2 linked regions of the Homo sapiens genome follow. The protein of the gene in region 1 interacts with the protein of each later gene in a biochemical or structural test. Each region holds a gene or a part of one and is shown on either strand. Other genes may lie near its edges.

Region 1 (3,655 bases):
GCGTTTGTAACGCAGCTCACTGGATGGGGGCTGGTTCCAGTTGGCAGAGAGGTAGCCAAACTCATCCCAGAACTTGATGATTCCCCTCTGGGCTGGAAAGCAAACACCGATACATCATGTTAGGAGCCAGCCTCTCTCTCTCCCTACATTCAGGTGAAGAGAAAAGGCAGAGGCCCAGCAGCCCAGCCCCATTACCGATGGCAATATCCTTCCAATACTGCGCCAGGTGCTCCCCCATTGCTCGGAGCAGGTGCCGGTACTCCTTGGCATCAGCAAAGTCCTGTTTGTTGTGTGTAGGCTCCAGGACCAGGTAGGGCACATCAACAACCCCAACAACCCCGCCACATGCCCTACAGGGAGAAAGAGAACAAGCTCTGTCACCCCACTGGCAACGCCCTCCTGCCAACTATCCTGGGCTAGACAGCTCTCTGTGGGTAGTACTCACATGCCCCCTTCCAGCTGTGGGCCCACTTTCTCATACATTTTGATCAGTCGGCTACAGTTGTAGATGAACATGCCATCCAGATCCCGGTGTTCAATGTTGACACCAAAAACAAAATTCAGTTCCTTAGGTTCTTTAAGTGCTCTAAGAAGACAAAAAAACTCAAGCAGATCTACACATCGGCACACAAGCACCATAGTGTTTAAGATGTGTTAAGCTTAAGCTTAAACTTGAAACATGTTAAGCCAAAAGTTTTGTATCTCTATTTGATGTGTAACCTGTTAGACTTGATATGGACATGCACTGGGCACCAACTCAAAGCATCCCTAATTAAAAACATGAGTGTGGCTTTTTGGCAACAGGGATGGTTGCCAAACCATTCATATTCATTAAATATGAATTGTTTATTACGAAGCTGCTGCAAATCTGTGCAAAGACAATTATATGTTGGAATAAACACCAGGTTATCGTCATACCTTCCCCAAAATTCCACTAGTATGATAGTAAATTATTATAATTTTTTTTTGAGACATAGTCTTGCTCTGTCGCCCAGGCTGGAGTGCAGTGGTGCGATCTCCGCTCACTGCAATCTCCGCACCCTGCATTCACACCATTCTCCTGCCTCAGCCTCCCAAGTAGCTGGGACTACAGGTGCCCGCCACCATGCCCGGCTAATTTTTTGTATTTTTAGTAGAGACAGGGTTTCACTGTGTTAGCCAGGATGGTCTCGATCTCCTGACCTCGTGATCCACCCACCTCAGCCTCCCAAAGTGCTGGGATTACAGGCGTGAGCCACCGTGCCCGGCCAATTATTATTATTTTAAAAGGCAAAAATTCACAAGAATAATAAGCATGTGCAATAAGACACCATCATGTGATTACTATCAACAAAAACTTAGAGCTGAAAAGCAGATGGATGAGGAGTGGACTGACTTGGAGAGAAAAAACCTGAAACCCATGCCTGTGCCAAGGAGGCCAACAAGAGGCAAAACAGTGAATCAAGCCACAGAGTCCAAAGAGGATCCAGACATGGAGGTGGGACAAGCAGGAAACTTAATGATCCAGGACAAATGCTGGTTCTAAATGCAAAAGTATACAACACTCAATCTCCAGCATTATTCTACATACATAACCACTGAGGAGAAAATGAATATGAAAAAATATATATGTAACATAAAAAATAGGGTCGTATCACCAGGTGGTAGAAGTATAAGGGAGTTTAAAAATGTTACTCCTTAAACATTTTATATTTTTCAAGTTTCATACAATGAGCATTTTATACATCCTTTAAATGAAAAGAAAGAAAGAAAAAGGGAAGAAAAGGTAAGACAGTGCCAAAGGATGGTTTTGGTGCTCGAGCCGAGGTTGTCAGCCCTGCCCTGTCTTTATGACTCAAAAAAGGGCTGAGAGCTAGGATTAAGACTTCCCTCCTGCAGGAGGCATTTGACAAGCATTTGGCATTAAAACAAAGCAGTCTTGGTGACAGAATAGCAACCTGTCAATAATCAGTCCAAAAGCTACGTCAGTTTAAAAGATCCAAGGACAGGCCTGGCACTCACCGCTGCTTGGCCTCCTTGATCCTCTTCTTGACATCGGCTTCTCTGCGCAGAGTGATGGCTCTGTTCTGGACCTGTCGCAACATCACCTGCACACATTGACATCAGGTGAGGGGAGGTGGCACTCTAGGCCACAGCAGGGAATATTGAAACATTACATCTAAGACATCTCAATTTATCTCAAAGATGTAAAACCACACCTGGAAATTTACTTCTTTCTACAGAAAACAGCCCTCACTGGGGACAAACTCAAAAGCTGTGTTTTACTTGACCAGGCTCATGGGACATGGGCTCCTAGTGCCAGAAACGCTGGAGAACAGCCGCCTGGGCCGGGACCTTACCCTGGAGTCCCGCGTGAGGTCTCCACCTAGGCGTACTTCTAATGTCCGAGCTTTGCTCTCTGCCTCCCGCGCCTTCTCTTCAGCTGAAACCCAGAAGAGAACATGGTAAGAAATGCAAAGGTTCAAAACTCTTGGTCATCCCTCCTGGATCCACAGTACTGGACACGAAGTGTGTACACCACCAAGGAAAAAAAGAGTAGGGGGAGCTATGGCTGGTGAGCAATGTGAGGGCAGCCTCTGTGCCTGGACGGCAGTCAGTCACAGAAGGAAAATCTGGCATTCAAACCTATCACGGAGGCCCCAAGGAAACTTTACAAATGAACCAGAACAGGTTTAAAAAAAAAAAAAAAACACCTAAGGCAACCAGTTGAACACTCAGCTTGAGCTGGAAGCTAAAGAAGTCTTCAGCCAATCACTCTCCAACAAGCAGCCGAGAAACCCTGAGAAACCCTGAACAGCGAGAGAGCCCCTGAGATGTTTGCCCTGAAGTCAGGAAAAGCAATTTCACAAGTATTTGCACCAGAGAACTCAGTGGGATTCTTCAATTGGGATAAGCCAAAGAGCTGACACTTTTAGGCCCTATAAATGGCAGAAGAAGAGAAAGTGGAGTGTAGAAAGAAGAAATGCTGAGGGAGTTGGCATGTAGTGAAAGGGGCTGCAAAGGAACTGAACTATGCTTCAGGAGACCAGCCTTGTCCCTGAGTTGTGGACTCAGCCTTTTCCTGGAACCCCACTTTGCCCACAAGCAGCATACCCCAGATGCACACCCCCCCAACTCCTGCACCCAGAGTGGCATTACCAATCCTTGCTACGTGCTCTGCTTTCTTCACCTCCTGCTCCGCACGGGTCTTGAAACGGCTTGACGTGTACTTGTACATCCTGATCAGTAGAAAAAGCAAGCTGATGGCCCACGCAGCAGTGGGGCAGGTGGCACACCCAAGCACAGGAAGCACCCTGCCTTCCTGCCTCCTCCCAAGCTGTGCTGTCCTGGCCCCTCATGATGAGACAAATCCAAGCTCAATTCAGCAAAAAGGTGCAGTTCCTTATTCCACTTGCCCTTAGCCTCCTGCTGTCTTTGATAAGCAACCTCACCATTCACCAGGGTTGTCATTCATCCCACAGCAGAAACAAACCTCAGGAGTAAGCCAAGCCCACTGCTTTCCTATATAGTGTCTAAAGGCCCCTTGGCCCTAAAGCCAAGAGACTCAGACAGCTCACTGAGCCAGGCAGGGCACCCTCCCTGTCACAGAGGCACACATACTCAATGAGCTTAGCCAGCCACCTCCACAGCTGATCTGTCCCTCCTCTAGGACCCA
Region 2 (2,434 bases), on another chromosome or scaffold:
GTTGAGCAAATGACTTAGAATTCAGTGGGTTGCAAGTGACAGAAATGCTTTCTTTCTTTCTTTTTTTTTTTTTTGAGATGGAGTCTTGCTCTGTCACCCAGGCTGGAGTGCAGTGGTGCAATCTCGGCTCACTGCAACCTCCGCCTCCCGGGTTCAAGCAATTCTCCCTGCCTCGGCCTCCCAAGTAGCTGGGATTACAGGCACGTGCTACAACCCCTGGCTAATTTTTATATTTTTAGTAGAGACGGGGTTTCACCACGTTGGCCAGGCTGGTCTCAAACTCCTGACCTCAAACGATCCACTCGCCTCAGCCTCCCAAAGTGCTGGGATTACAGGCGTGAGCCACCACACCCGGCCAGAAATGCTTTCAAGCTTCCTAAATCAATAAGAAATAAGGCCAGGCACAGTGGCTCATGCCTGTAATCCCAACACTTTTGGACGTCGAGGTGGGTGGATCACTTGAGCCCAGGAGTTTGAGAACAGCCTGGGCAACATAGGGAGATCCCATCTCTAAAAAAAATAAAATGTAGCCAGGTGCGATGGTGGATGCCTGTGAGCCCAGCTACTCGGGAGGCTAAGGCAGGAGGATCACTTGAGCCTGGGAAGTCGGTGGTGCAGTAAGCTATGATCACACCACTGCACTCAACCATGATTGCACCACCACACTCCAGCCTGGGCAACAGAGTGAGAACCTGTCTCAAAAAAACAAACAAACCAATAAGGCCGGGCGCAGTGGCTCACACCTGTAATTGCAGCTCTTTGAGAAGCCAAAGTGGGCAGATTTGCTTGAGCCCAGGAGTTTGAGACCAGCCTGGGCAACATGGCGAAACCCTGTCTCTACAAAAAATACAAAATTTAGCCGGGCGTGCTGGCATGCACCTGTAATCCCAGCTACTCAGGAGGCTGAGGCAGGAGGATCACTTGAAGCTGGGAGGTTGAGGCTACAGTAAGCCATGATCGTGCCACTGCATTCCAGCCCGGGCAACAGAGTGAGACCTTATCTCAAAAAAAAAAAGAAAGAAAAAAACAAAAAAAATGCAACAACAAGAAGAGAGGTCTTTTCTGAGCAGAGTGGACACCTCAGGAGACACCCATCACACTCCAAGTGATGGAGGTGTGTTCATGTTAACAGTGGAAGAGGGGTGGGGGTGCTGCACCTCCAGACTCCGGCCCAGATCCTCTTACTGCCTTCTCTTTCTTCCCCTTCCCCATACCCAGAGAAGATCTTCTCTGAGGTGACGCCCAAGTGTGAAGACTGTCAGAGCCTGGTGAAGCCTGGTGAGCCTCTGGCCAGGGACCTGCCCAGGTGGATTTGGGTGGGGGTCCCCTCCTCCCCCTGACCCCCTCCCAAAGGCCACACCCGCACACATCTGGCCACCTCTGTCTCTCTGAACAGTGCCCCAGATCCATCCTGGGGAGAATGGGGTCTGTGCCCCTGGCCGGTCCCCACTGCTCCCAACTCCCACTGTGGCCTCCGGGTCTGCCATTGCTCCCACCTGTCCTCTCTGCCTCCCCATGTCACTGTCTCTGTCCGTCCATCTGTCTCCACCTCAGATATCGTCTTTTTTGGTGAGAGCCTCCCAGCGCGTTTCTTCTCCTGTATGCAGTCAGTAAGTGGCCCCCCAGCCTCCCCGCATCCCCAACCGCCGCCTCCACCTGTGCTGGGCCCCATGGGGGCAGCCTGGGCCCTGCCTCAGGAAAGGTCACCTCCCCAGCTATGGGGGGCGGCAGGGAGGTTTGCTGCTGGGGGCGGGGGAGGGAGCGGTGGCGCAGCCTGGGCGGAGGCTCCCAAGCTCACGCCCCTCCCCGCAGGACTTCCTGAAGGTGGACCTCCTCCTGGTCATGGGTACCTCCTTGCAGGTGCAGCCCTTTGCCTCCCTCATCAGCAAGTAGGTTGGGGGCTGTGGCTGGGAGGACGGCTGGGCACCCAGGGCCAGGACAGACCCTGACCCCTTAGCTCCCCCTCCCCACAGGGCACCCCTCTCCACCCCTCGCCTGCTCATCAACAAGGAGAAAGCTGGCCAGGTAAGAGCCCTTCTTCAAGCCCCCGTCGTCACAGGCTCCCCCTTCCCTCTCACCCTTTTCCTCAGAGGGAACCCCCACTGTGGAACCCCAGCACTTTGCATTCCTCAGCTCAGAACCTGGGGCTCTAGAATCCAGAGGGGTCGGGTTCCAGGCCTCTGGGACATTCACTGCCCTTTTGAGCAAGTGATAGAATTCCAACTCAAACCAGCTGAAGCCAGATAGGAAGGCCGGGCTTCCAGGGACTGAGGAGGTGGGAGGGGGTGCAGGGGTCAGGAGAGACAGTGCGGGGGGCGGGGTTGGGTCCACGCTCTGGGTCTCTCAGGTCTGTTTTTCCTGGGCAGCCTCACTCTAGGGCAGGTGCTCCCTCCTAGGTGTTCCCCTCAGGGGAAGTAGGCAGGGTCACCGGGCA

What was found. Proteins that work in one complex are often made in the same cells at the same time.
Region 2: the proteins of MORC2 (region 1) and SIRT2 form a complex in vitro, tested with the Homo sapiens proteins (one study listed by BioGRID).

What each region holds. Positions count from the first base shown.
Region 1 is NC_000022.11:30,937,620-30,941,274, forward strand, and holds part of MORC2 (ATPase MORC2), read right to left. Parts: intron 3,219-3,655; coding exon 3,139-3,218; intron 2,423-3,138; coding exon 2,340-2,422; intron 2,088-2,339; coding exon 2,002-2,087; intron 587-2,001; coding exon 446-586; intron 351-445; coding exon 196-350; intron 93-195; coding exon 1-92. UniProt on the Homo sapiens protein: Essential for epigenetic silencing by the HUSH (human silencing hub) complex. Recruited by HUSH to target site in heterochromatin, the ATPase activity and homodimerization are critical for HUSH-mediated silencing.
Region 2 is NC_000019.10:38,880,276-38,882,709, reverse strand, and holds part of SIRT2 (NAD-dependent protein deacetylase sirtuin-2), read left to right. Parts: intron 1-1,218; coding exon 1,219-1,278; intron 1,279-1,554; coding exon 1,555-1,610; intron 1,611-1,812; coding exon 1,813-1,889; intron 1,890-1,973; coding exon 1,974-2,025; intron 2,026-2,434. UniProt on the Homo sapiens protein: NAD-dependent protein deacetylase, which deacetylates internal lysines on histone and alpha-tubulin as well as many other proteins such as key transcription factors.